Linked DNA regions of Homo sapiens. The protein of the gene in region 1 interacts with the protein of each later gene in a pairwise test. Each region holds a gene or a part of one and is shown in the gene's direction. Other genes may lie near its edges.

What was found.
Region 2: the proteins of CCHCR1 (region 1) and RBM17 interact in binary tests that used the Homo sapiens proteins (3 or more experiments, as listed by UniProt).
Region 3: the proteins of CCHCR1 (region 1) and TADA2A interact in binary tests that used the Homo sapiens proteins (3 or more experiments, as listed by UniProt).
Region 4: the proteins of CCHCR1 (region 1) and ZNF774 interact in binary tests that used the Homo sapiens proteins (3 or more experiments, as listed by UniProt).

The regions. Positions count from the first base shown.
Region 1 is NC_000006.12:31,147,796-31,154,818, reverse strand, and holds part of CCHCR1 (coiled-coil alpha-helical rod protein 1), read left to right. Parts: intron 1-19; coding exon 20-323; intron 324-3,696; coding exon 3,697-3,860; intron 3,861-3,958; coding exon 3,959-4,094; intron 4,095-4,253; coding exon 4,254-4,364; intron 4,365-4,603; coding exon 4,604-4,753; intron 4,754-6,090; coding exon 6,091-6,201; intron 6,202-6,307; coding exon 6,308-6,414; intron 6,415-7,023. UniProt on the Homo sapiens protein: May be a regulator of keratinocyte proliferation or differentiation.
Region 2 is NC_000010.11:6,106,031-6,113,053, forward strand, and holds part of RBM17 (splicing factor 45), read left to right. Parts: intron 1-110; coding exon 111-208; intron 209-2,655; coding exon 2,656-2,712; intron 2,713-3,955; coding exon 3,956-4,097; intron 4,098-6,179; coding exon 6,180-6,331; intron 6,332-7,023. UniProt on the Homo sapiens protein: Splice factor that binds to the single-stranded 3'AG at the exon/intron border and promotes its utilization in the second catalytic step. Involved in the regulation of alternative splicing and the utilization of cryptic splice sites.
Region 3 is NC_000017.11:37,402,799-37,409,889, forward strand, and holds the start of TADA2A (transcriptional adapter 2-alpha), read left to right. Parts: upstream 1-4,087; 5' UTR 4,088-4,151; intron 4,152-4,425; exon of another isoform or gene 4,426-4,698; intron 4,699-7,091. Other genes in the region: ACACA (acetyl-CoA carboxylase 1), read right to left, coding at 3,464-3,501. UniProt on the Homo sapiens protein: Component of the ATAC complex, a complex with histone acetyltransferase activity on histones H3 and H4. Required for the function of some acidic activation domains, which activate transcription from a distant site. Binds double-stranded DNA.
Region 4 is NC_000015.10:90,347,616-90,355,302, forward strand, and holds the start of ZNF774 (zinc finger protein 774), read left to right. Parts: upstream 1-4,668; 5' UTR 4,669-4,796; intron 4,797-7,026; 5' UTR 7,027-7,045; coding exon 7,046-7,149; intron 7,150-7,687.

The DNA.
Region 1 (7,023 bases):
CACTAACCTGTCTTTGAAGGTCCTGGGGGCTGGAGGGGTCACAGGCCCTGAGCCAGCAGGCTGAGGTGATCGTTCGGCAGCTGCAAGAGCTGCGGCGGCTGGAGGAGGAGGTCCGGCTCCTGCGGGAGACCTCGCTGCAGCAGAAGATGAGGCTAGAGGCCCAGGCCATGGAGCTAGAGGCTCTGGCACGGGCGGAGAAGGCCGGCCGAGCTGAGGCTGAGGGCCTGCGTGCTGCTTTGGCTGGGGCTGAGGTTGTCCGGAAGAACTTGGAAGAGGGGAGCCAGCGGGAGCTGGAAGAGGTTCAGAGGCTGCACCAAGAGCAGGTGAATGCAGGGGTAGAAAGGATTCAAATTCATAACGGAGAGCTGGGCAGTAGCTTCCAAGCAAAGAACAGGTATTGCAGAAAAGACCCTCCATGAGTAGTGAGTAGTAGAGTGATGAGACCTTTGGTGAAAATAAACACACATGGCCTAGAAAGATGGAGAATTTGGGTACTTTTATCTTAATTCAGGTTGCACTTTTCCCCCAAGACTCAGGTGGCCTCCCACCACTTGAAGCCCTGCTTCCCTTTCTAGTAGGAAATAGTTTGCCTCCCTACTTTACTCCAGGTACCAATTCATCAGGGGTATTGTGGAGGGCAGTGAGGAAGGTGGGTATAAGGGGGCTATGGTGGACTGGGAGAGAGAGATTATTCAGTCCTCAAACTCAGTACTTACTCTTTGCCATCTCTAAGACTCAGTGACCAAATTAGCCTGAGTCCTGCCTTCGTGGATGGAACTGACAGCCTCGTGGGGGATATACACATCCACATTTAATTTAATCATAATTAATTGCAATCAGGAGGAATGCCTTGAAGGAGAAGGACTAGAAAGCACTAACTTAGTCTGGGGTTCAGGGAAGGCCACTGTAACCAGTTGACATGTCAAGGAAAGAAACCATAGCCCTGGGCGCAGTGGCTCACGCCTGTAATCCCAGCATTTTGGGAGGCCGAAGCAGGCAGATCACAAGGTCAGGAGTTCAAGACCAGCCTGGCCAACATGGCGAAACCCTGTCTCTACTAAAAATACAAAAATTCACCAGGCGTGGTGGTGCGCACCTGTAATCCCAGCTACTTGGGAGGCCGAGGCAGGAGAATCACTTGAACCTGGGCAGTGGAGGTTGCAGTGAGCCGAGACTGTGCCATTGCACTCCAGCCTGGGCGACAGAGCAAGACTCTGTCTCAAAAAATAAAATAAAAAAGGAACTGGGAGAAAACAAGGGAGAATTCCTTTATAACCTTGTAGTGGGCAAGGCCTTTCTACCTGTGAGTCAAAATCCAAAATCTAGAAGCCATAAAGGAAAAAATTGATCCATTGACTTTATAACATGAACATTAGGAATAGCCAAAAAGAAAAAAAAAAGCTATATTTATAGCTCAGATCACAAGAAAAGGGTAATATCCCTAATATAAAATGTGTGCCTAGAAATTGGTAAGGGAAAGACCAGCAATCCAATCAGAAAATGGACAAAGGAGATTTATGAAAGAAACTTAGAAACAAGAAGCTAGGCCAGGCACAGTGGCTCATGCCTGTAATCCCAGCACTTTGGGAGGCCGAGGTGGGCGGATCACTTGAGGCCAGGAGTTAAAGACCAACCTGGCCAACATGAAGAACTCTACAAAAAAATACAAAAATTAGCCGGGTATAGTCGTGGGCGCCTGTAATCCCCCAGCTTCTTGGGAGGCTGAGGCAGGAGAATTGCTTGAACCTGGGAGACAGAGGTTACAGTGAGCTGACATCACACTCCAGCCTGGGCAGCAGAGCGAGACTAAAAAAACAACAAGCTACCGTTTGTGCTGAATAGGAGTTGGCCAGTGAAGAGGCGTGTGAAGTCCAGTGGTAGCTGGAAGACACTTGGTGGGACAACAGGTGAAGGCGGGGACAGGAGGCCAGAAGGCTGGGGCACAGAGATGAGGGGCACTGAGTGTGCTGCAGAGCCCAGGGCCCAGGGCACAAGGCTTTGGCCACTTCAGAACTTGCTACTTTCCCATAAGAGCAATGAGCAGGCTGGGCACAGTGGCTCATACCTGTAATCCTAGCACTTTGGGAGGCCAAGGTGGAAGGATCATTTGAGCCCAGGAGTTTGAGACCAGCCTGGGCAACAAAGCGAGACCCCCATCTCTATTTTATGGAAGAAATTAGGGCTGGGCATGGTTGCTCACATGTGTAATCCTAGCACTTTGGGAAGCTGAGGCGGGTGGATCACTTGAGGTCAGGAGTTCGAGACCAGCCTGGCCAACATGGTAAAACCTCATCTCTACTAAAAATACAAAAATTAGCTGGGCGTGGTGGCTCATGCCTGTAATCTCAGCTACTCAGGAGGGTGAGGCAGGAGAATCGCTTGAACCTGGGAGGCAGCGTTTGCAGTGAGCTGAGATCGTGCCATTGCACTCCAGTCTAGGCAACAAAGTGAAACTCCATCTCCAAAAAAACAAACAAAAAAAAATTGTTTTTTCAAGTAATAAGCAACCGTTGAAAGGTTGTTTTTTTTTTTTTTTTGAGATGGAGTCTCGCTCTGTCGCCCAGGCTGGAGTGCAGTGGCGCGATCTTGGCTCACTGCCAGCTCCGCCTCCCGGGTTCAAGTCATTCTTCCGAGTAGCTGGGACTACAGGCGCCCGCCACCACGCCCAGCTAATTTTTTGTATTTTAATAGAGACGGGGTTTCACCATGTTAGCCAGGATGATCTCGATCTCCTGACCTTGTGATCCACCCACCTCGGCCTCCCAAAGTGCTGGAATTACAGGAATGAGCCACTGCGCCCGGCCTGTTGAAAGGTTTTAAGCAGGGAAATAACATGATTAGATTTGTATTTTATGTCTAAAAAATTTTGTCATTTATGTCCCCCAAATTAATTTTATTGTTGTATGGAGACAGGGCTAGAGGAGGCAGACCAGGAAGCAGGGTGGGCACTTTGCCCTCCTTTCCAGTCCATCCCATGACTCTTGGTGGCTCTGACACCCCTGCAACCCTTTGAGGTGCCATGAGCAAAAGACACAAAATTCCTCCTTTCCTGGAGCTTTCCTTCCAGTGTGGTCCGACAGATAGTAACACATACACATAAGCAAGATATGGTCAGTGCTAAGTGCTCAGGAGGACGTGAACAGCTGATGGGGCAGAGTAGGGTGGGGAGGGACGGTATTAGAGGGCCCAGTGAAGCCACCCTGAGGAGGGGCTATCGCCTGGGGTCTGTGGAGCAAGGAGGGGCCGCTGTCTGGTTCTCAGCAGACTCCCCGTGGCCGGAGCGGGGAGCAGTGGGAGAGCCTCCAGGGTGAGCTCAGGAGGTAGGCAGAGGCCGGGTCCCCTGGCCTGCAGGTGTGGAGAGACACCTGGGTTTTGTTGTGAATGCTGTGAGAAGCCACTGAGGGTTTGTAAAGACTAGTTAGGAGATGGTCGCTGTTGCCCAGGCAAAAGATGAGGGTTGGTGGCAGTGGAGACGGAGACAGAGAGGTGAAGATATGTTTTGGGGGAGATCGGACAAGAACTCCTGATGGGTTGTGGGGCAGCTGCGGAGAGTGAGTTGCCAGCTCTCCATTTGCTGTGCACAGTTGGCTGATTGGTTGGGTCATTCTCTAAGGTCACAGAAAGTGGGAGTGAAGGGAACAAGGAAGGCCTCCATGTGGGGTCGAGCCTCTGCTGAGCCCCCTCTTCTTTCCGCAGCTGTCCTCTTTGACACAGGCTCACGAGGAGGCTCTTTCCAGTTTGACCAGCAAGGCTGAGGGCTTGGAGAAGTCTCTGAGTAGTCTGGAAACCAGAAGAGCAGGGGAAGCCAAGGAGCTGGCCGAGGCTCAGAGGGAGGCCGAGCTGCTTCGGAAGCAGCTGAGGTAGGTGGGCGGACGCCGACGGGAGCCCAGCAATTAGTGATGTGGTGGATCTGCAGGGCGCCCCACTGATGGCTGTCCCATTCCCACCCCAACCCTAGCAAGACCCAGGAAGACTTGGAGGCTCAGGTGACCCTGGTTGAGAATCTAAGAAAATATGTTGGGGAACAAGTGCCTTCTGAGGTCCACAGCCAGACATGGGAACTGGAGCGACAGAAGCTTCTGGAAACCATGCAGGTGAGGGTGCAGGAATGTATCTGTGTGCAGACTTAGGGATCAGGTTGGGAGGCAAGCGTGGCCCTTGGAGGAGCGTGTAGAGCACAGCCTCCGGGAGAGAAGGTGGTACCTAAGGCGGCATGGAGGCCCTACAGAGGGGCTGCTTTCCTCTGCCCGCAGCACTTGCAGGAGGACCGGGACAGCCTGCATGCCACCGCGGAGCTGCTGCAGGTGCGGGTGCAGAGCCTCACACACATCCTCGCCCTGCAGGAGGAGGAGCTGACCAGGAAGGTACAGCCCAACCCCCAGACCCCTCACCCTCAGCCGCATCCTGCATCTACTGTCCCCTGCCTCCCTCCCTGTGGGCAGGAGGGGTCAATGTGCCCCAGAACCTGCTTAGATCTCCTTCCTGTGAACTCCTCTTGCTGTAGCTCATGTTGCCCAGGCAGGACAGAGGAGAAACAAAGATGCCACCTCCTTCCTCTCCTCCCCCAGGAGCCCACACTTTTCTCCCACTCCTTCTCCCTCAGGTTCAACCTTCAGATTCCCTGGAGCCTGAGTTTACCAGGAAGTGCCAGTCCCTGCTGAACCGCTGGCGGGAGAAGGTGTTTGCCCTCATGGTGCAGCTAAAGGCCCAGGAGCTGGAACACAGTGACTCTGTTAAGCAGCTGAAGGGACAGGTCACTGCACTCTCTTTTCTCCCGGTATTCCCTCCCAGCACCTTGCTCCTTCCATGAAGGTGGCATCCATTCAACCAGTGTTTATTGAGTGGTTGCCACATGCTGGGCACACAGCCCTGAACAAAACTAAAATGTGGAGCTTGCATTCTAGAACAGAGACACAGAACACGCAAGTAAACAGATAATGTTGGGTAATTATATGTGCGATAGAAAGATTGAAGCCAGGTGCAGTGGCTCACACCTATAATGCGATCACTTTGGTCTTGAACTCCTGACCTCAGGTGATTCACCTGCCTCAGCCTCCCAAAGTGATGGGATTACAGGTGTGAGCCACCGTGCCCAGTCAAGTAATGCCAACAGTTTGGGAGACCGAGGCAGGTGGATCACTGGAGGTCAGGAGTTCGAGACCAGCCTGGGCAACATGTGAAATCCCGTCTCTACTAAAAATACAAAAAATTAGCCGGTCATAGTGGCTCATTCCTGTAGTCCCAGCTACTCTGGAGGATGAGGTGGGAGGATCACCTGAGGCTGGGAGGTCGAGGCGAGGCCACAGTGAACTGTGATCCCATCACTGCACTCTAGCCTGGGTGACAAAGCGAGATCTTTTCTCAAAAAAAAAGAAAGTAGTAAGAAAAATTCAAAAGATAATGTGACGGAGAGACTGTGGGGTGAGTCAGCCTCAGGTAGGATGCTCAGAGACAGCCTCTCTGAGGAGGTGACAGCATCTGAGGAGAGTGGCATGGTCAGTTGGTGGGTCTTGTGGGGTGGGTCAAGGGCTATTCCCATCTTTGAGTGGGCACATGGAATGTGGAACATGGAACACTGGGCTCAGATTCCATCCTCAGAACCTAAGCTTCTGTCTCCCTGCGTGGCATTCATTCTTTTTCTTTTCTTTTTTTTTTTTTTTTTTTTTTGAGAAGGAGTCTTGTTCTTGTCACCAGGCTGGAGTGCAGTGGCCTGATCTCAGCTCACTGCAACCTCCGCCTCCCAGGTTCAAGTGATTCTCCTGCCTCAGCCTCCCGAGTAGCTGGGATTACAGGCACATGCCATCACGCTCAGCTAATTTTTGTATTTTTAGTAGAGACAGGCTTTCACCATGTTGGTCAGGCTGATCTTGAACCCCTGACCTCAAGTGATCCATCTGCCTCGGCCTCCCAAAGTGCTGGGATTACAGGTGTGAGCCACCGTGCTGCAACCCACCCCCGTCGCCCGCCCCCCCTCCCCCCAGCCCCTGCATGGCATTCTTACAGAGATCTCTGCACCTGCCACTTTGCTTCCAGTGCCCCCCTCATCTTTTAGCTCTAGAGGGCCCTGCCTAGCTCTCTCTCCTCCCCCAGGTGGCCTCACTCCAGGAAAAAGTGACATCCCAGAGCCAGGAGCAGGCCATCCTGCAGCGATCCCTGCAGGACAAAGCCGCAGAGGTGGAGGTGGAGCGTATGGGTGCCAAGGTTGGTGTCAGCCTACTAGAGACTCGGGGAGGGCAAGGGAGCCCCTGTTCCGGGGCTGCAGCCAGGACTTAGGGAGGGACCCTGTCCTTTGCTGCATCCTCCCCAGGGCCTGCAGTTGGAGCTGAGCCGTGCTCAGGAGGCCAGGCGTCGGTGGCAGCAGCAGACAGCCTCAGCCGAGGAGCAGCTGAGGCTTGTGGTCAATGCTGTCAGCAGGTATCAGGGATGGAGGGGTGGGTGGAGTAGTGTTTCTGCCACCTCAGGTTCCTGGGCACCTTGTTGCTGAGGATCCTCAGGCAAGAGGGGCTGGAAAGTGGCCACTGGAGGCTACAGGGCTGGGCAGATTTAGCTCTATCAATGTTCCTGTGTTCGTTTCTTTTCCTGGGGAAGCCCCTTCTGCATTCATACCTGATTGCTTGTTATGAATTTCCCGTTGCATGTTTGGCTGGAGGTGAGGCCTTGCTTCCTCCTGCAGTTCAGTCTAGTAATGGCTTGAGCTAAATAGAGCACCCGGGAGGATCTTTACTTGCAGTATTGTTCAAGGATGGAGAGTGTAGACACTTCATCTTCCTTTTTTTTTCTAAAATTTTACGGGCAATCCGTTTCACTGGAGAAAAATTTAGTCTATTTATTTATTTATTTTGAGACAAAGTCTCGCTCTGTCACCCAGGCTGGAGTGCAATGGCGCAATCTTGGCTCACTGCAACCTCACCTCCCTGGTTCAAGTGATTCTCCTGCCTCAGCCTCCCGAGTAGCTGGATTACAGGCATCCTCCACCAGTGTCCTCCACTACACCCGGCTAATTTTTGCATTTTTAGTAGGGAC
Region 2 (7,023 bases), on another chromosome or scaffold:
GTTGATTGTGACAGGATTTGGATATCTTCTGGTCAAGAGGAAGTCATCCCAGGTTCAGGTCTCTAAATTGGTTCATCTGTGATGAACATTTATTTCCTTTGTTATCACAGAAGGCGTAAAGACAGACATGAAGCAAGTGGGTTTGCAAGGAGACCAGATCCAGATTCTGATGAAGATGAAGATTATGAGCGAGAGAGGAGGAAAAGAAGTAAGGCATGAACAAATATGTCTTAAACATATATAAATACTGGAAGTGCAATTCCACTATGTGCTTTTTCTTTTCAGTTTGATAAATAGTTCATTTGACATTGATTTGGGTAATTTTCTTTCTGGAATCCCAGCAATACACATTTGCGTCACAGTTTTAATTTATATTGGGTTTTCATATGTATTTTCCTTTGAGCTTCACAACCACTTTCTAACATTTATTTATTGGATACTTTGGGACTAGCTTAAAATCTATTCCTGCACTGTCTTTACCTGCAGCACAGTCCAGTTGGCCGATGCTGAATCCACTCTGTTGTTTCTCTTAGGGGGGAAGCATAGTTAACATTGAGTGTGTCTGTTTTGGGCATTGTGACACATTTCATATCCGCTATCTTAGTTAATCCCCAAATGTTTGGTTTTTATTAACTTCTTTTGGAATTCAGTATATAGGTTGAATATTTGTAGGTCTCATTTTTCCAGCTTATAAATTGACTGCCCTTTTTAATAAGGAGGCATGCTTTCCATACTAAGGACATTTGTTTTTTTTTCTTAAACACCAGCAGGAACTAGATAGCTTTGAATGAGAAGACTTTGTTTGACCTTGTAGCTCATGATAGGGAGGTAGTGGCATGCCCATCATATGTATAGTTGTTGACAGATTGATGTTCTTATTTTAATGTGATTAGTAGCAGATTTCCAGTAATCACCCTGAATTTTTTTAACTGAACTTATTAGAGCTAATCTGCTTTTCAGAATCAGTAATCACTCTAGGTCCTAGTGACAAGGTTAGTAAAATGATCATGGAAGTATTTCAAAGGAAATAGAAGAAGGTTTTACTCAGGTTCATATTTCTCCTTGAGGATTTTATATCATCCAGTCCTGTTAATCAAAATGCATGGACACTGGCTTTAGAATAATTTCTAGAATAATTCTTTAGAAGAATGAATTTATTTATTTTTGAGATGGAATCACTCTGTTGCCCAGGCAGGAGTGCAGTGGTGCAATCTCGGCTCACCACAACCTGCAACCTCCTGGGTTCTAGCAATTCTCTTGCCTCGGCCTCCAGAGTAGCTGGGATTACAGGTGTGCGCTACCACGCCCATCTAATTTTTACATTTTTAGTAGAGACAGGGTTTCACCATGTTTGCCAGGCTGGTCTCAAACTCCTGACGTCAAGTGATCCACCCACCTCAGCCTCCCAAAGTCCTGGGATTACAGGTATGAGCCACTGCACCCGGCCTCTTTTTTTTTTTTTTTTTTTTTGGAGACACTCTTGCTCTGTTGCCCAGGCTGGAGTGCAGTGGCGCCATCTCGGCTCACTGCAACCTCCATCTCCTAGTTTCAAATGATTCTTCTGCCTCAGCCTCCCAAGTAGCTGGGATTACAGGTGTGTGCCACCATGCCCAGCTGATTTTTGCATTTTTAGTAGAGATGGGGTTTCACCATGTTGATCAGGCTGGTCTCAAACTCCTAGCCTCAAGTGATTTGCCTGCCTCAGCCTCTCAAAGTGCTGGGATTACAGGAGTGAACCACTGCGTCCAGCCAGAATAATTTCTTTTGTCAAACATTTTGTGCTGATGCAGCATGACTTTGTAATCAATTTTTAAAGTTTTACATTTTGTTTTTATTTCATTGTTGATTAAGCCATAATACATATGTATTATGTAATATTATGTATACGTAATCCATATATGTTAGGACTTATGCCTAATGCAAAATTCCTTGTGGTCTCCACTGATGTTCTCCTTCCAGTTGTCGGATACCAGATAAAAAGATCTGTCTTATCTCTTTTGGTTTGTTTGTGTTCACCATTCGTTGTCCAGGAAATACACCAGGAATAGTGACAACACGCAGCAGTTTCTTCAGGAGCCAGAAGGACCCACGCTTTCAAATATGTGTTTAGTTCCAGTGGTTTGCACACTGGAAAAGGAGCGTGCTGTGTGGTGGGGGAGATATGGCAACGCAGGGAGCTGGGTTTACTCCCTTTCTGTTGATTCACTCCCCTCTGATCATTCTCTTATTTGTAAACTGGATGCAGTAATATCTACTTCAGAGGTCTGTGAAGCCTGAACGAGGCCATGTGTATAAAGGGCCTAATGGGTATTGCTCTCGGTAAATAGTTACATTACTCTCTTTTTAAGTAACTGCTGGTTCTCTTGGTTGTATTGTTTTGCCTTAAAATTCATTTGCAGACTACATTGTGGGGCTCTTGAGTTCCTTTTATGAAGGAACAATTTTGCATATCTGAGGGAGTGTTGCCACTTTTCTACATTTTAAATCCTAGCATCAGAGGTTTGTTCATATGTAGCAGGAGGTCATCTGAAGTAGCAGGTCCTCCTTTTTTAGTTTTTTCTTAGGGGGGTGGGTGATAGATATATGGTGTGTCATAGTCGTTTGGGAGTCTGGCATCGGAAACCTCCTTTAATGCTTGGATTTGTGGTTTTGCAGGTATGGGCGGAGCTGCCATTGCCCCACCCACTTCTCTGGTAGAGAAAGACAAAGAGTGTAAGTAGATCTGTTTCTTCCTCTTTTATTCTGATACAGGTCTTTAACCCAACCATGGGGGATCTCAGCTTGGGCCCCCAGGTTTCCTGAGCGTAGAGGGAAACGGCCTGCAAGCCTGCCTGGCTCTGTCACCTGAGGCCGCACCTGGATCTCAGAATGCAGCGCCCTCCTGCAGAGAGAGACCTTTCTACGCCAGGCTCTGAGGCTTGGATTTCATGCAGTGGGATCCATCTCTTTTTTATGCAATTCACTTTGATTTCATTAACATTTCTTATTTGTTGTTAGATTCATTTGGAGTTAAAACAGCAGATCGTTACAGTTTTTTAACTCAGAGGTTTAGAGGCTGTTATATTCATGATCCTCCACAAGGTGGCAATGCCTTCCTTGATTAGATTTTTTCTTCCCGTTCCATTTCACTGCAGGTGGGTTTGCGTGTCATTGCGTTGCCAAAACACCCTCACCCACTGTTCCTTCTCGCAGTGATCTGCTCTAGAATTTGGGGGTTGGGACTGGACTTCTGAATATCATCTAGGTCATTTTCCCATTCTCTGGATTGGACCATACTTAAACTATCCCAAGCAGATATTCTCATTTATAGTACTTTTTAAAACTTGTTGAATTCTTTATCTTTTAAAGAAGATAATTTCTAAGATATTATGAAATACCTATTATGTGAAAACAACAGACAAACAATAAACCCCAATTGAAACTAGTCTCTGGGAGTGGGGCTCAGGCATCTGGATGGTCTTAAAGCGTCCTACTGACTTTCATCTAACTAGGGTTGAAGCCACCGCTCCAGTGCGTAGCCCCTAACCTCGGACACCTTTGTGGGCCATGAGCTGATGAGATAGTGAGGTCGGGGTCTAGACAGGTGCACCCAAGTTACTGCAGGAGTCAAAAGATGGCCAGATTGTATCTCCTTAGAACATACAGAACATCTTTCCGGCAAGAATATTCATTCAAGAAGATTTTAAAGGGTGAATAACATTTCAGTAAGATATAAAAAAGACGTTTGAGGAGATAGAAATAGCAAAAGGAAAGTTAGAATCAGGAAAGTAGCGTCCTCCCTCTGTGGTTTTAAAAAAAGTCGTATAAAGGCTGTAAAATTGATTTGGTGTTTTTCTCTCCTTGTGGTAAACCAAAAAGTAGGTTAAATTTGTTCAAGATAAATAATTGATACAAGTGAGGTTTCAGAGTGTTTTCTATAGTATTTTGGTGAGCCTACTTTATTTTTCTCCAATAGTACCCCGAGATTTTCCTTATGAAGAGGACTCAAGACCTCGATCACAGTCTTCCAAAGCAGCCATTCCTCCCCCAGTGTACGAGGAACAAGACAGACCGAGATCTCCAACCGGACCTAGCAACTCCTTCCTCGCTAACATGGGGTAATGATTTAATGTTCTTATCTAAGGACTTGAGAGACAGTGTGAAGCGTTGATAGCCCTTTCAATAGATGCAGCTTGTTTGAAACTGAGGACATTCAGGACCCTTGGTGTGTGCAGGTCACACGGTACCTGCCTCAATCGTGTGGAGCGTGTTCCAGTGTAATGATGGGGCTTGTTCAAAACAGCAACCTCCCAGTAGAAGTTTTGACTCATTTTGATGTTGAACATTATTTTCCTAGACAGGCACAGAACCTGATTAATGTTTACATTTGCCTTCATAACGTTTGCAAATAAAATAGCTCATATGAATCAGAGCTGACTTACTGTCTCCAAAGGGCAGGTGATACCTTTTTTTTCCTGATAAAGTGGGCCATTTGCTTTCAGGTCATGGTTCTAAACCTTTGGTCTAAAAAACTCGGGGTCATTCTAACTACAAGTTGACATGTTTGCCAGCATATAAAATTTGACTGTAAGGCTGACGCTCAGGTGGGGCTTGGGGATTTTTTTAAACTGTGCTGGGCTTGGCAAACATTTTGGTTAAGAGGATATTCTGTGTTGTTGACTTTGATCCTGTGAGACGGCTGTCCCATGAAGCAGTATCACATGAAGGCTTTGTTCTGTGCTGTGTTGCATCTGCTGGCTGCTGCCTGTAGCAGAAATGCAGCCGGTGAGACAGTGAGTGGGGTTGAAACTCACTAGTCTCCTTTCAAGTGCTCAGTGACCACATGCAAGTGGTGACGATGTTGGATGGTGCAGACATAGGACATGGCCGTGGCTGCAGGAAGCTTTGTGTACTGGAGGGTTGGACAGACATGAAGCTGGTTTTGTTTTGTTTTGTTTTGTTTTCCCTGTTTATGATAAAAACTGACTTTTTAGCGAATTTGCTTTTAACCAGGAATTACATCTTTAACTTGTGCTTAGGAAAGATGCAAGATGGTACCATTCAGCAGTTTCTGGTCTTTTTAGCCCTAGAATAGCTTGTTCAAATGAAAATGTTAAGGGAATTAAATACAAGAAGTAATGTAGGTGCAGTTCCAGTTGAAGCGGGATTTTGTGGCTTAAGCCCTAAGCAGCAGTGGTCATGGGGTTGGGGTGCCCTTCAGACCCATGCTGCGCCTCAGAGCGCAGTGTGAGAGCCATTTGGTTGTTACAGAAAGCAGTGACTGAGAGTTGTGGGGTCCAGTTTCAGCTCTACCATTAACAGCTGTACAAATAATTTATTTGTTTTCTGAGATGGAGTCTCGCTCTGTCGCCCAGGCTGGAGTGCAGTGGTGCGATCTCGCCTCACTGCAACCTCTGCCTCCCAGGTTCAAGCAGTTCTCCTGCCTCAGCCTGCCAAGTAGCTGGGACTACAGGTGCACACCATCATGCCCAGCTAATTTTTACATTTTTAGTAGAGATGAGGTTTCACCATGTTGGCCAGGCTGGTCTTGAACTCCTGACCTCAGGTGATCCACCCGCCTCGGCTTCCCAAAGTGCTGGGATTATAAGTGTGATCAACTGCACCCAGCCTGTACAAATAATTTCTAATATGGCGTCTTGCATTACTTCTAAGTCCACCCCTTAAGCTAGTCAGCTAATCTTGGCCTCCGTTTATTTCTCATTTGTTAAATAGGTGATCTCTAAGGGTTCTTTCATTTGTATAGTCTGTCATTGGAAACTCTCCTGTGCTATTTAGGAAAATGGGATCATCTTCATTGTACGAAACTTCATACTTACTTTTTGATAGCCACTTTTTAATAAACTGTGGTCATAAGCTATGTGGCAGTGCAGGTCCGGAGCACACAAAAGGTCTTGTGTTTCCTAGCAGGGCACTGAGGAGACTCCACCAGAGAAACTGACATTTCCCCTCCAAGACAACAGGATGTTCTGGATTTTATTCATAGCTTTTTCTATTTCTTTCATGCTGCACATCCCCACAGCTTCCATCTAATAGCCCACTCCTAGTTAATGAGTGACTTTGTTGAAGCCCCTGTGGAGCATGCACTCTCTCCAGAAGGAGGTTGTTGTGATGGAAAAATGCAACCTATCTCCAGTTGACGATGTCAAGGCTAAGAGTCCTTTCCCTTCTTCTCCTGCCAGGGGCACGGTGGCGCACAAGATCATGCAGAAGTACGGCTTCCGGGAGGGCCAGGGTCTGGGGAAGCATGAGCAGGGCCTGAGCACTGCCTTGTCAGTGGAGAAGACCAGCAAGCGTGGCGGCAAGATCATCGTGGGCGACGCCACAGAGAAAGGTGTGTCCCCAGGGAAGCGTGTGACTAGAGGGAAAGGACTGGCCCCATCCATATCAGACATGGCCAGTCTTGATCCTCATGTGTCAGCAGGGGGACAATGAGGCGTGTGGCCAGAGGGAGAGGGCTGGCCCTGCCATCACTAGAACACAGGCCGTCCTGTTCATATGATGCACTGCCACTTCCGTTTTGTGAAACCAGGAATCCTGAGGCTCATCTTTATTTTTTCAGAACAGACGTAGAGAGATGAAGGCTTGTGGAGGAAAAGATGGTGAGAGACTTGGGCAGAAAATGAGTAGTCCTCAGGAAGAAATCTTGGTTATGTGTTTAGAGCATGAAGGACAGAGCCATATAGTGTGGCAGTGAATATACCTGCTATCTCCATCTCAGAGGTCGTCTCTACTTTTCCCTTTTGCCCTTTCAGTATAGATGTGATTTCTGATTCTCTTACAGATTGTTTGCTTTGCGAGATCTGATGTTATGTTGCAGTCTCTTGGTAAATGATGCCTAGTTGGTGTTTTATTTTCATTTAATTTTTACAGTCTGTTCTGTGTTGAGGGAATTCAGGAAAGAGACAAACATATGTTAGCATTTTAATCAGGGAATTAAGTTTGAGTCAGCCTAGCTGAACTTCCTTTGCTAAAGAAAGAAGAAAACTTTTCTGGCAGCCCCGTTCATGCACAGCTTAGGATACA
Region 3 (7,091 bases), on another chromosome or scaffold:
AGTAGCTGGGACTACAGGCGCCCACCACCACGCCCGGCTAATTTTTTGTATTTTTAGTTGAGATGGGGTTTCACCATGTTAGCCAGGATGGTCTCGATCTCCTGACCTCGTGATCCGCCCGCCTCAGCCTCCCAAAGTGCTGGGATTACAGGCGTGAGCCACTGCACCCAGCCAGTGACTTCATTTTTACTTTTGCCTTTACTTACTCATTTCACAAGTATTTGAGGATACACTTCAGAGCACTGAGGTTACAAAGACAACAGTGTCTGTCCTCAAGGTCTGTCTAGGTAAGACACACAGCCAAATAAACAATTCTAATACAGTTATACAGTTTTAGTTCTGACACCTCCAATGAGCTGTAGACTTGTATTTGTCATTTCCAGTCAGAATGCAAAACACAGATCCAAAACAGAACTTTCAATTTCTCCTCCAAATCTATTCTTCCTTCAGCTGGTCGTGTAAGTGATGCCACTATCACATCCACTTAAGACAAAAACCCAGAGGAGTACTGCCTTAATCAGTAATCAGTGTTACCCTTCTTCTCACTGTGCATGTTAATTTTGCCACATCTTTTTTTTTTTTTTTTTTTTTGGTACAGTGTCTCACTCTGTCACCTAGGCTGGAGTGCAGTGGTGTGATACTGGGTCAATGCAGCCTCAACCCTCTGGGCTGAAGTGATCCTCTCACCTCAGCCTCCTAAGTAGCTGGGACTACAGGCATGCGCCACTACACCTGGCTAATTTTTGCAATTTTTGTAGAGACGAAGTTTCACCATGTTGCCCAGTTCTCATGCCTCCTTGAACTCCTGAACTCAAGTGATCTGCCTACCTTGGCTTCCCAAAATGCAGGGATCCCAGGTGTGAGGCACCGTGTCCTGCCCTCTCCACATCTTTCTTAAGCACACTGACTAAATTGGTCTAAGTAGAGCCTAACATCAACTGAAGGGAGAGGGTAATTTCCAGGTAGTTGAATGCTATGATTTTTGTTTTTTTGTTTTTGAGACAGACTCTTGCTCTGTTGAACAGGCTGGAGGGCAGTGGTGCGATTTCAGCTCACTGCAACCTCCACCTCCAGGGTTCAAGCAATTCTTGCGCCTCCCAAGAAGCTGGGATTACAGGCATGCGCCACCACACCCAGCTAATTGTTGCATTTTTAGCAGAGATGGGTTTTCGCCATGTTGCCCAGGCTGATCTTGAACTACTGGCCTCAAATGATCCATCTGCCTTGGCCTCCCAAACTGCTGGGATTACAGGAATGAGCCACTGTGCCTGGCCCCTGAATGCTATGTTTTTAACGACTAGATCTCAGTATTATGTGGGACTAATTTTTCTACAGTATTACAACACTGATTACTGATATTCATTGTTGACAATCATGACATCCAGATCTGGATATTTGCCTTAGCCAGTCTCAAAATTTGAGTTTCAATGACAAAGACACAGATATGTCCTAAATGACTGACCCCACTTCCACTATGTGAAGTTGAGAGTGGTTGTAAAGCTGTACAGCTATAGGTGAAACACTAATGTTAATCAACTATCTGTTGAACAACTACCATGTAAAAGGACAATTTATGCCTTAGAGAGCAATTTAAAATTTTTTTAGAGATGGGGGTCTCGATACGTTGCCTAGACTGGTCTCAAACTTGGGCTCAATCCATCCTCCTGCCTCAGTCTCTCGAGTAGCTGGGATTACAGGTACACACCACTTCACCAGGCAAAGGGCAATTTTAATATTTCTACCATCCATTCTCCACACAGCTGCCACAGTGATTTTTTTTTTTTTTTTTTTTTTGAGATGCAGTTTCACTCTGTTGCCCAGGCTTGAGTGTAGTGGCACAATCTTGGCTCACTGCAACCTCCACCTCCCAGGTTCAAGTGATTCTCCTACCTCAGCCTCCCGAGTAGCTGGGATTACAGGCGCCCGTCACAATGCCCAGCTAATTTTTTTTGTATTTTTAGTAGAGATGAGGTTTCACCATGTTGACCAGGCTGGTCTCGAACTTCTAACCTCAAGTGATCCGCCTGCCTCGGCCTCCCAAAGTGATGGGATTACAGGTGTGAGCCACCGCTCCCAGCCCACAGTGATCCTTTTACAGCAAAGCTACTCCTTTGCTCTCAACCCTTCGTCATATTCTGTCACTTCCCAATAAAATCCAAACCTTACCAGATGATACATGATCTGCCTTGATTTCCATCTAATTTCTCTCATTTGCTGTGCTCCAGCCACACTGGTCTTGCCCTTTCTCCATGCCAAACAAATCCCCATTTCAGGGTCACTGCACTTGCTGCTTCTCTTCTAGGATAGTTTCCCTCTAGAAATCCATGTTGCTCCTTCTCTCATTAAATGATCAGATATTTATGTGCCTCCTTAGCTAAGAGGCCTTCCTTATCTACCCTAACTAAGAGAATCCCCATATCACTCTTATCCTTTTATCCTGATTTATTTTTCCATAAAACTTGCCACATTACTGGGCATTATCTATCATTTAGTAATGTGTATATTGCTTATTGACAGTCTTCCCTACTATAATATGAGCTCCATGAGGCAGAGACTTTGTTTTGTTCACTGCTGAATTCCCAGCACCTACAACAAGCCTACTCACTAAACATTTGTTGAATTAATCTTCAGGATACATCAAATGTAAAATATCCTATCATATATTTATTGATGTGATGCATAGGAAAATGTCTGGAAGGGTACATACCAAAATGTTAATTATTTATTTAACCTGGTGGGAGGTGGTTTTTCTTTCCTTTTCTTTTCTTTTTGAGACAGAGTTTCGCTCTCGTTGCCCAGGCTGGAGTGGAATGGCAAGATCTTGGCTCATTGTAACCTCTGCCCCCAGGGTTCAAGCGATTCTACTGCCTCAGCCTCCGGAGTAGCTGGGATTACAGGTGCCTGCCACCACACCCGCGTAATTTTTTGTATTTTTAGTAGAGACGGGATTTCACCATGTTGGTCAGGCTGGTCTAGAACTCCAGACCCTGTGATCCGCCCGCCTCGGCCTGCCAAAGTGCTGGAATTACAGGCGTGAGCCACCGCGCCCGGCAGGGCTTTTTTTTTTTTTTTTTTTTGGAATGAACTTGTATTATGCATATACCAAAAAAGAATGAAAGGGTTCACACAGGCATAAAGTGTAAGTGAATTCTAAAAAAAGGTTGGGCAAATTTATCAAAGGCAGACTTCTAAATAGATGTAACAGTTATATAGTTCAGATAAACCATGGTTTGAATTCCCTTCCCCAGTACTTCCTAGCAGTGTGATCCCAAGTTATTTATGTCAGTGCCTAGATTTCTTCACCTGGAAAATAGGGATAACAACAGGTGCCTACCTCACAAGTTTTAAATGAGACCGTATGTGTAACCTGCTTTGTGCAATGTCTGGCATGCAATAAGTACTCGACAAATGGTAGCTATTAGAATCATCATTAACAGCAGTAATAAGAGATCTTGGGACATACCTAGCCCTCAAGATTGACATCAGAGTAGACCACCACATCCTCTCATCATTGCGCCTCAATTTGGGCCTCTGAAGCCCAAAGAGGGGATGGTTCTTTCCAAAGAAGACAATTTCGACGTTCCAGGAGCATCTGATTGAAACGCACCCTCTTCACCCCTTAAAATCAGTCTGGTTCATCCACGAGCAGCCCTTCGGGGCCCGGACTGGAGAGGCGCCACGGCTCGCCGTCCCTGGGCCCAGTTCCCTCAGCCTCAATTTCCCTTGCTGCAACAGGGGTGGAGATGGGAACGTTATCCCCAAACCCAGGCAGTCCCGGCTCGGCCCGCCTCACCGCACTCCGGAGGGGACCAAACAGCCCCACGCGCCAGGAAGCCTCAGGCAACGGGCCACGCGCCACACGGGCAAAGTGATTACTGGTCGGATCAAAAGTCAGGCAAGCGGCTCAGCCCCATCCTCCCAGTCCTCGGGCACGGGGACAGCAGCAGGCGCGCGGCGGGGACCGGGAAAAGGCCAAGAGGGCGGTGGCGGGCGCTCAGCACCCGGCGGGGGCCTCCACGGCCGAGGGGCGGAGGCGGCGGGCGCGCGGCACGCGGCGCGCTCGCCACTGCGCCGCCCGGGGGCGCGCACGCAAAGCCCGGAGGCGCGCGCGACCGGCGGCTCTTTGGCGCGGATTAGGGGGTCTCGGCGAGGTGAGGCGCCAGGCAGCGCTGGGCGGGCGGGCGGGCGGGTGGCGGAGCGCGAGCCCCTCTAGCGGGACTAGGGAGAAGCGGGGGCCACGAGGTGCGGCGGGGGAGGAGTCGCGGGCTGCGGGCCCCGGCGGCGGGCTTGACGCGGCAGGCTGGCGGGCCGGCGGGCGGGCAGCGGCGGGCCTCGCCGCTCTGTGGGGGAGGGCGGTGTGGGGCCGGGCCTGACCCCGGGGGCCCGCCCCGCGTCTGGGCGGTGCCCCAGTGCCCCGGCCTCGCCATTTCCCGCTCAGCCCTGGAGCGCGTAGCTCTACCAAGAATGGCCACTGTGCCAGATGCCCCTGACCAGCGTTGCCCATTTGAATTTCCTAGCAGGCCCCCCAAAGTAGGTATTTCAGTACCCTGTTAGAGCTGAGGCGCAGGTAAAATGACTGGCCCAGGCCGGTCCCACCCCGTAAGGATTTGAACGTTGGCTCCACAACTCGGGAGCCTGCGCCTTTCCTCCTCCCAACGTGGACTCCTGCCCGGCGAAGTGCCTCACTTCCTTCTCCCGGTAACTGATTCGAATTTGGCGATTGTTAGTTTGGAGCTAGCGCCAGTGTTTCCACGGAAGTTGGTGTCAGAATGTGGTCTCTTGTGAAAGGGGGAGAAAGAAGATTCTGCAGACTGCAATATTGTGCTTTTTTGCCTTTTTTTTTTTTTCTCCTAGGCTGTACTGCAGTGCAGTGGCACGATCGCGGCTCACTGCAATCTCCGCCTCCCAGGCTCAAGCGATTCTCGTGCCTGAGGCGTGGGCCACCACGCCCAGCTAATATTTGTATTTTCAGCAGAGGTGGGGTTTCACCATGTTGGCCAGGCTGGTCTCGAACTCCTGACCTCAAGTGATCCTTCCGCCTCGGCCTCCCAAAGTGCTGGGATTACAGGCGTGAGCCACCACGCCCGGCCCTACTATTTTTTTATTTTTTGAGATGGCGTTTCTTTCGCCCAGGCTGGAGTGCAATGGCGCCATCTCAACACACTGCAACTTCTGCCTCCCAGGTTCAAGCGATTCTCCTGCCTCAGCCTCCCGAGTACCTGGGATTACAGGCGCCCGCCACCACACCTGGCTATTTTTTGTATTTTTAGTAGAGATGGGGTTTCGCTGTGTTGGCCAGGTTGATCTCGAACTCCTGACCTCAGGTTATCTGCCCACCTGGGACTCCCAAAGTGCTGAGATTACAGGCGTGAGCCACCGCACCCGGCCTCCTACTGTGCTTTTTCGAGTGTTGATCAGTCCCTATTGACTGTGCATCCTTTACTGGACGTCTGTTTTTGTTTTTGTTTTTTGAGAGGGAGTTTCACACTTGTTGCTCAGGCCAGAGTGCAACAGCGCGTTCTCAGCCCACCGCAACCTCCACCTCCCGGGTTCAAGCAGTTCTCTTGCCTCAGCCTCCCAAGTAGCTGGATTACAGGCATACGCCACCACGCCCAGCTAATTTTGTATTTTTAGTAGAGACAGGGTTTCTACATGTTGGTCAGGCTGATCTCGAACTGCCGACTTCAGGTGATCTGCCTGCCTCGGCCTGCTAAAGTGCTGGGATTACAGGCGTGAGCCACTGCGTCCAGCCTTGACATCTGTATTTGAAATGACACAGCTATCCCTTGTAAGACACTGCGCAAGTAACATACTCTTTCAGAGCTTGCTTGCTTTTGAAAAAGCAGCTTGCCCCAAAAGTGTGGGAGTGAGGATTCAAAGAATCCCCACACCTTGGTACCCACGGGTACCTAGCAAATTGAAAAAGTTCAGTAAATTTGGCAGTTATTTGATTGCTGCGTTCGTAATACACCCTTGCTAGACTCATTTTTCTTCAGAGCTCAACTTTTCCTGAGAGGACAGCAAAGGGAGACCTACCCCACCCCAAAAAGGGAAAGTTCTTTGATGGCAGCGTTAGCAGAAATGTTGCCCACACTTAGTGATGAATTATTCTCCAAGCTAAAAATTACCAGGGTGAAAAAAATCACTTCAGAAAAGCTAAAGATAAATTAACCTTTTGTAGAATTAACATTTATTAGTCCACTACTATGTGTTTATTGTATTCCTCCTGTATGCTTGGCATTTTAAAAGCATACAGATAGGTATCCGATATAGTCTCTGCTTTCACTTATTTATTATTTATTTTTGAGACAGGATCTTGCACTGTCGCCCAGGCTGGAGTGCAGTGGCACAATCTCGGCTCACTGCAACCTCCACCTGCCTGGTTCAAGCAACTCTCATGCCTCAGCCTCCCGAGTAGCTGGGATTATAGGCGCCCGCCACCACGCCAAGCAAATTTTTTTGTATTTTTGGTAGAGACGGGGTTCTCACTATGTTGCCCAGGCTGGTCTGAAACTCCTGACCTCTGGAGATTCATCTGCCTCAGTCTCCCAAAGTGCTGGAGTTACAGACATGAGCTACCACACCCAGCCTGCTTTCACTTAATTTAGAAGTGGGGGAAAATAGACATTCAGAAGTAATACTCACAAAGTAGAATGTGAAAAATGCCAGATAAAAAGCTGTGAGTGGGCCGGGTGCGGTGGCTCATGCCTGTAATCCCAGCACTTGGGGAGGCTGAGGTGGGCAGATCGCCTGAGGTCAGGAGTTCGAGACCAGCCTGGCCAACATGGTGAAACCCCGTCTCTACTAAAAATACAAAAATTAGCCAGGCCTGGTGGCCCGCGCCTGTAATCCCAGCTAATTGGGAGGCTGAGGCAGGAGACTCGCTTGAACCCGGGAGGCGGAAGTTGCAGTGAGCTGAGATCGTGCCATTGCATTCCAGCCTAGGCAACGAGAGCGAGACTTAGTCTCAAAAAAAAACAAAAACAAAAACAAAAAGCTGTGAGTGTACAGAAGAAGGATTATTTTTTGACTTAGTGTAAAATATTATTTTATTTCTGCTTCAAAGAAGATACTTTGGGCCAGGCATGGTG
Region 4 (7,687 bases), on another chromosome or scaffold:
CAAGAACTTGCAGCTGACAGAACTGACACACAGATTTCCCCCAAGAGGAAGAACCCTTTTCATTTGCAGAGATGAATTGAAATGTCATGTCTGAGTGCAATTCCTGCTCCCCACTCCCACCCCACAAAATCCTATAAGTGATAATAAATCAATAAAATCCCCATGATTTACTAAAAGTCATCCCTGCAAACCTTTCTAACTAGCAGCTGCAGTGGATAACCAAGAAGGGAAGCAGCTGGCCATCACATAGCATTCCTGTGAGTGTGAGAATGAAGGGACAGCAGCATGGGAGCGAGAATCCTGAATGAGTGAGAGGTATAGATAATCTACCTCACTTCATACCTGCCCCTTCCCTACATAAGACATCTCTGTCCTGATACATGGAAAATACTAGAGGAGATGGTAGAAGTGGTTTTAGTCTGCAATTGGAAATGCCTGAAGCTTATTAAATTCCAAGGTAGGGGTGAGATGAGGAGCACCAGAGAGAAAGAGCAGGTTAGACAGAGATGCTCAACTCACTCTGTCAATTCCAGTTTAATGCTATTTAACAACAAAATTATCTTCTTAATCATAACCACCCTCATGCCTAACCCCTATTTTCCAAAGATAAGAGATCCCTGTCTAAATTTCTGGGTTGGTGTCTACTGCCGCCCCTGGGGTGGTACTGTGATGTTTGTGAGTGAGATTGCAACTGGGATGGGAGAAAAGAAGTGTGGGATACGGAAGATCGGGGGCCACGATGCATCAATTACAGTGGGTCTCTTTTCGTCCCCAGGTATGGCCCACTACCACAAGTCCCCTTTCCCTACCTGTCTTGTGCAACTGTCAAAAACAGAATCTCTGCCCAAAGAGAAGGGAGCACAGGGAGTTGCTGCTGGACTGCCATCATCTCTGACCCCAACTTGTCCACCTCCTGACCGACCTTTCTATGAAACTGCACAAAAATTAAATCTCAGGAATGCCATAAAATTACATCATCCCCATTCCTCTATCAAAGCCAATCCAACAGCTCTGTCCTGACATGCTTTCTCCCTGGGCCAAGGAAGCAACAAAAAATATCAGTTGAGCATGTGAAAATGCGTTGACGGTGTGTGCGGTGTAAAGTTTCTATATGTCTTCACCTTCTGTCTCCTCACGGTGGGAGCCGCCCTCTCTTTCCCCAAGTCACACACACACCCCTCCCCTACCCCTAAGTCCAGGTGCTTCCATCTGCTGGGCTTCCAACCACTCATTTCCCATAGACACTCTCATTACTGTAGGCCACATACAGAAAATCATCTTCCTCATGACTGTCCTCATATAGTTGGCCCATGGTAGCACTAGTGGGAGGGATAGTGTTGTTGACAAAGAAGAATAAGGCGTCCTCAGGTCTCAGGTGGATTCTCTTCCGGATTAAAAGGTAGAACTGGCCATCGGTAAGGTCGGAGGGCACTAGGTACTTCCTCCTGTCCAGATCAGGCACCCTTGCTTTTGGAGCCTTCTCTACAATCAAGGGGACCCTGTCCGGATATTTCTTCCGGATCTTTTCTCCTTCCTTTTTCCGATACTCAAAGGGATGGACCTCCTTGTACTGGAACTTCATGGTGAATCACAGGGCTTCCGTGATCCCCGCGCAGGGCCTGCCTCCTTCGCCGCTGACCGCTGGCCACGTCCCGCTCCCTCCGCCGACGTGTGCTTAGAATAGCTGCAGAAATGTCCGCTTCCGGGTCAACAGCACTGGTCCAAGTGTGCGGGAGGGCAGAAGGTGGGGTGGGAGGGGGACCTCGGGTGCGCCTGCCTGGAGGTAGAGGAGAGCCAGGTGGAGAAATACCGGCGGCTTTTCCAAACAGCTGGGAGCACAAAAACCAAATATTTGGTTTTTTAAACCAATAAATTTTGGGGTAATTTGTTACACAGCAATAGATAATGATAGACTCTCTCTTTAAAAAAATCAGTTCTGGCAGGGTGCGATGGCTCACGCCTGTAGTTCCAGCACTATGGGAGGCCAAGGCGGGTGGATCACCTGAGGTCAGGAGTTCGAGACCAGCCTGGCCAACATGGTGACACCCCCGTCTCTACTAAAGATACAAAAAATTAGCCGGGCGTGGTGGTGCACGCCTGTAATCCTAGCTACTTGGGAGGCTGAGGCAGGAGAATCGCTTGAAGCCAGGAGGCAGAGGTTGCAGTGAGCTGTGATGGTGCCATTGCACTCCAGCCTGGGCGACAGGGCAAGACTCTGTCTCAAAATAAATAAATAAATAAATAAATAAATAAATTCAGTTATAGCAAGTGCTGAAGTCTTTCTGTCTTTTCATGCTCCTTGAAGTCCTTTCACAGTTTTTCCTGGCTCTTCTACGCCTCCTCTCGGCCACGCCCTTTAGCACCCAACCCCTCAACAGGTAATGATCCTCTCTTCACGTGGCCATTGCGGGTACATGATTGGTTTCCTGTACTGACTGCTCTTCTCGTGAGACCAAGCTTCCTTTCCCCTACTCCCCACACACCTGATCATTGTGAACAAACCGCCGAGAGAACAAGGTAAGGCAGAAGGAACAGAAGCTGCAGAGAGCGGCAGGGGATAGCCACCAGCCAGATTCTGTGACTCTTCATTCATCTCCCCACTCCAGTCCCAGATTGAAGAATAATCTTCATGATCTCCTTAATGGCAAAATGCTAGAAAGACTTACCGAGGGGTCTGAAGATGCCTTCGGTTCTCCAGGTCCTGAACTCTGTTCCAGTTACAGGAGGACTGGCAATCCCTAGGTTTCCTGGGTGTTACTTTGTTACTGACCTCCTCTGAGATTTCCATTTTCCTCAATTTCGTCTAACTAAATCTAACTACGTCTAACTACCTCTGCTAACCAGACATTTGTTCATAGTCGACAGAGTTTCCGAAAATGCAATGTAGTTACCTTGCAGATGACTATAATTGTGTAGCAAAATAACTAAGATGCCACTGGCTATATGGAAAAAAAAATTACTTAGGATTTTGATACCTTTTATGGTTTATTTCCCCTTTTGGCCTGTGAACTTCATGAAGGTAATGGTTATGTATGATTCCCGAGTAATCACAGTTCCCAGAACGATCTTTTTTTTTTTTCTTTCTTTTTTTCTTTTTTGAGACGGAGTCTTGCTCTGTCGCTCAGGATGGAGTCCAGTGGCGCGATCTCGGCTCACTGCAAGCTCCACCTCCCGGGTTCACATCATTCTCCTGCCTCAGCCTCCCGAGTAGCTGGGACTACAGGCGCCCGCCACCACGCCCGGCTAATTTTTTCTATATTTAGTAGAGACGGGGTTTCACCATGTTAGCCAGGATGGTCTCGATCTCCTGACCTCGTGATCCTCCCGCCTCGGCCTCCCAAAGTGCTGGGATTACAGGCGTGAGCCACCACGCCCTGCCCCCAGAACGATCTTGAGAACAGAATGTTCCCAATAAATATCCACTGGAAAATGCACCTTATTTTTGTTGAAGGAATGGTGGAATTAGCATCAAAGGGATCTTCAACATTAACTCGGGCCGGGCACGGTGGCTCACGCCTGTAATCCCAGCACTTTAGGAAGCCGAGGCGGGCGGATCACGAGGTCAGGAGATGGAGATCATCCTGGCTAACATGGTGAAACCCCGTCTCTACTAAAAATACAAAAAATTAGCCGGGTGTGGTGGCGGGCGCCTGTAGTCCCAGCTACTCGGGAGGCTAAGGCAGGAGAATGGTGTGAACCTGGGAGGCAGAACTCGCAGTGAGCCGAGATCGTGCCACTGCACTCTAGCCTGGGCGACAGAGCGAGACTCCGTCTAAAAAAAAAAAAAAAAAAAAACTCTATGGCTGGTAATTCTAAGCGTTTTATAATACATCACAAAATGTTCTTTTATTTTTCTAAATTGCACTGAATCAACAAACGGAGTAGACAGGCACATTTTCTTCACTTTAAGGAAAGACTTTGTTGTTTTTTAGCTAGGGGCCGACCCAAAGTGATCACTGGCTCTCACATGAGACCCAGGAGCCTCCCCAGTTTGAAGCCCGATATCACATTTCCCAGAATACTTGATGCCCTCGCCCGCCTCCTCTGGCTATCAACCAGACGGAAAGGGGATGTGCCTGGGAGTTTGATGCCAAGGGAAGGATGCGGAATGTCTGTTTTCTACTAAGGGCTTCTGCTGGGCCTTTCCAATGTCCAGTTTGAGTTGGTCTGGGACCTGGCCTCCGCAAACACCCTGCAGGCTCCGGCCGCCGGGGATGAGGTGGAAGACTGGGCAGAAGAGAGGCCGCAAAGGCCCGAGGGCTGAGCTGCTCTGCGCTGGGGAGGGGCGAAGTGCCAGAGCGCGGGAGACCTCATGGTGGGCACCAGGCTGCTCCGCGGTAGGTGGGTGAGGCCAGGAGATTCACATCTGCAGATGCCACAGTGAGGATACAGCATTTAGATCCCTCGGCTCCAAACAGGCGGTTCCGGGGGACCGGTAGCTGGGGAATTGGGTTTAGCACTTTCCAACGCTTGGAACTGGACATCCACGGCTCCGAGTCCTTTGAGGTCTTGCTCGGGACTACGTTTCCCAGAAGGCTAGGCGATAATTGACAGCTCTATCAGCCTATGGACAGAGAAAAATTCTAGCCATGGAAACTGAAAAGCCAATAGCAAGAGGATGGGGGCGGTACTTTCCGGCCGCTGGCTGTCGAAGCCGGAGTCCCACCTGTGTCCCCACAGCCCTGTCACGAATCCCGGTCGGGTTCTGGGAGGCACAGCCTCGGGGTTGCGGGCCGGGTGCGGCTCGGCGGTGGAGGACTCACTTCCTGCTCCATCCCCGGCTGGGCCCTGGGGCGGTGAGTGATTCAAGGAGGGAGACCGCGGCGGCAGCGGCGCGCTGCTGAGGGGCGTGGAGGGGGCTTGCCCGCCACCCAGACGTTTTCTCAGCGGGGTTCCCGCGCTGGCCTTTGGGAGCCCCCGGGTCTTGCTGGGCTGTGGGAGAGGTAGCTGTGGTCTCTATACCGTCGGCGGGATAAGTCATTCTCTTAATCAGTTTTCTTGCTTCTCGATGGTGGTCCCAGGGTTTCAGCTGATCTGTGACCCTCTGACCGCCGCACCCCGGTTAGGGCGCGAGCACCGAGAAGAAGAACGGGGTTCGGCCCCACGCGTGCAGTCATGTTCCTATTAATAAACCCGGTGAACGCACTGGAGCTTCTCACAGTGGCACTTAGTCACAGCCCCTCAGCGCTGTGGGGCCTTTGAGGTCACCTGTGCATGGGGAAAGGGACGGGCTGGGAAACAGGGTTTCTATAACCGTGGCTAAGACGTCTCCCCTCCTCAGTGGCGCTGTCTCCAGCAAGTGGGCCCTGCAGCTGTGTTTTGTAATGAATGTAGAAATAAAAATTATACTCAAAACTCTTTTTTTTTTTTAGACGGAATTTCGCTCTTGTTGCCCAGGCTGGAATGCAATGGCGCTATCTCCTTTCACTGCAGTCTCCACCTCCCGGGTTCAGGCGATTCTCCTGCCTCAGCCTCCCAAGTAGTTGGGATTACAGGCGTGTGCCACCACACCCGGCTAATTTTGTATTCTTAGTAGAGACAGGGTTTCACCATGTTGGCCAGGCTGATCTCGAACTCCTGACCCCAGGTGATCCGCCCGTCTCGTCTTCCCAAAGTGCTGGGATTACAGTCATGAGCCACAGCACCTGGCCAATACTGAAAACTCTTATTACAATTTTTACTTTCTAATTACATTATTGTTGTTTGTTAAAGTTTTAAACCAGAGAGATGGTTTTTAGATCCTTAAAAACTCAATACTTTATAAATGACCAATAATAATGTCTGTAAATACAAAAATATTTCCCCCAAAAGTGTGTGTGTGTGTGTGTGTGTGTGTGTGTGTGTGTGTGTGTTCCAGTAGTAAATAGGTGATTTGTAGTGGGACAAAAGATGTGAAAGAGTAAAACTTCTTCACCACAGTCTGGTCCTTCCTCCCTTGAAATGCAATATTCTTTGTAGTGGGTGGTCATGCTGGCTGCATTTTTTTTTTTTTTAAGGGAGAGACAGGGGCTCACTCTGTTGCTAGGCTGGGGTGCAGTGGCGCCATCATAGCTCACTGCAGCCTGGAACTCCTGGGCTGAAGTGATCCTCCCACTTCAGCCTCCTGAGTAGCTGGGACCACAAGTGCATGCCACCATGCCTGGCTGATTTTTAAAAGTTCTTTGTAGAGAAAGAGGTCTCAATATGTTGCTGAGGCTGGTTTATTGGAAACTTTTTAAGGGAAAAAACATTATCTTAATTTCTATGTGACTCCTATGCCTGGCAACATATTAATTGTTGAATAAATGACTGATCCATCCAGTAATTCACTCTTGACTATCCTCCAAAAAGTAATGTTTTTCATGATATTGCTGTCGATTTATTAATATATTAATGATTGGTTTCAGCCCCTAAGAGTTGTGTTTTGTGCTTATTCCCACTTTCACTTATTTTTACAACCTATCCATGTCTTCTTTTTTTTAAAAAAAAAATGTCTTTTTCAGTCTTATTTCTGACTCCATTAAGATCTTGAAATAGAATGGTATCCAACACAGTTCCCTTTGGGGTTCTGTATAATCTGTCCCTTGAGGTTGACACCAAATCTGCAAGCCAAGAAGTTAGCTGCTCCCATAACTAATATGAGTATAGTTAAGGCCACAATTTCCTTGCTTGCTGAGGAAAATGAAGTTGGGGAGAATCAAAAGCTTTCCAGAAATCAAATTACACCTGCCAACTCTCTCCTTTGTTTACCTTGTTCATCGTGGACAATTTGTTCCTCAAAAAGTCAATGTGTCTAAAAGACTGGGTTCTGTCGATGTGTTTGGGAGGCCTAGGCCTCTCTTAGTAATGGGAAAGTTGGCCAGGAGAAGACGTATGTAAAAACAGACTTAGAAAAGCACCCCTCTGTGGTTGACAGAATTTACCTCAGGACCATTCTGGTCAGGTGTGGGGGGTTGTTTGTGTACACTGGTGGCCATTTTTTGGCTTTCAGACAATGGTGAGAATATCTAGGGAGCTACTGATGCACATTGAGGTCTCTTGCTTTAGGAACTGATGACGCTTGATAATGTGGCTGGGGACTTCAGGGAAGAGTGGGTTACCTGGACACTGCTTAGAGAATCCTCTCCAGGAATGCCACCCAGCACAGTTAGAAGAATGGGCTCTCAAAGGGTAAGAATGCTACTCTCCTTTATTTCATTTATTTATCTTGTTTTTTTTGAGACGGGGTCTCGCTCTGTCATCCAGGCTGGAGTGCAGTGGCGCGATCTCGATTCACTGCAATCTGTGCCTCCTGGGCTCAAGCGATTCTCCCACCTCAACCTCCTGAGTAGCTGCGATCACAGGCATGTGCCACCATGCCTAGCTAATTTTTTGTGTTTTTAGTAGAGACAGGATTTTGCTATGTTGGCAAGGCTGGTCTCACTATGCTGTCCAGGCTGGTCTCAAACTCCTGAGCTCAAGCAATCCACTGGCCTCCGCCTTCCAAAGTGCTAGGATTATGGGCGCCACCATGCCTGACCACTGCTCTCCTTTAATTTGAGACTTAGATATTTGGAGAGGGCCCAGGTCTGAGGAGTTTCTGGTATGTTGGCATCTTAGAGCTCCAGACCTCTGTAAGATTAATTGTTGCCTCCTTGGGAGAAAAACAATTACTTCCTTATGCATTTTATGGTTTGCAAATGTCTTTGCTATTTATTGTCCTTTTAAT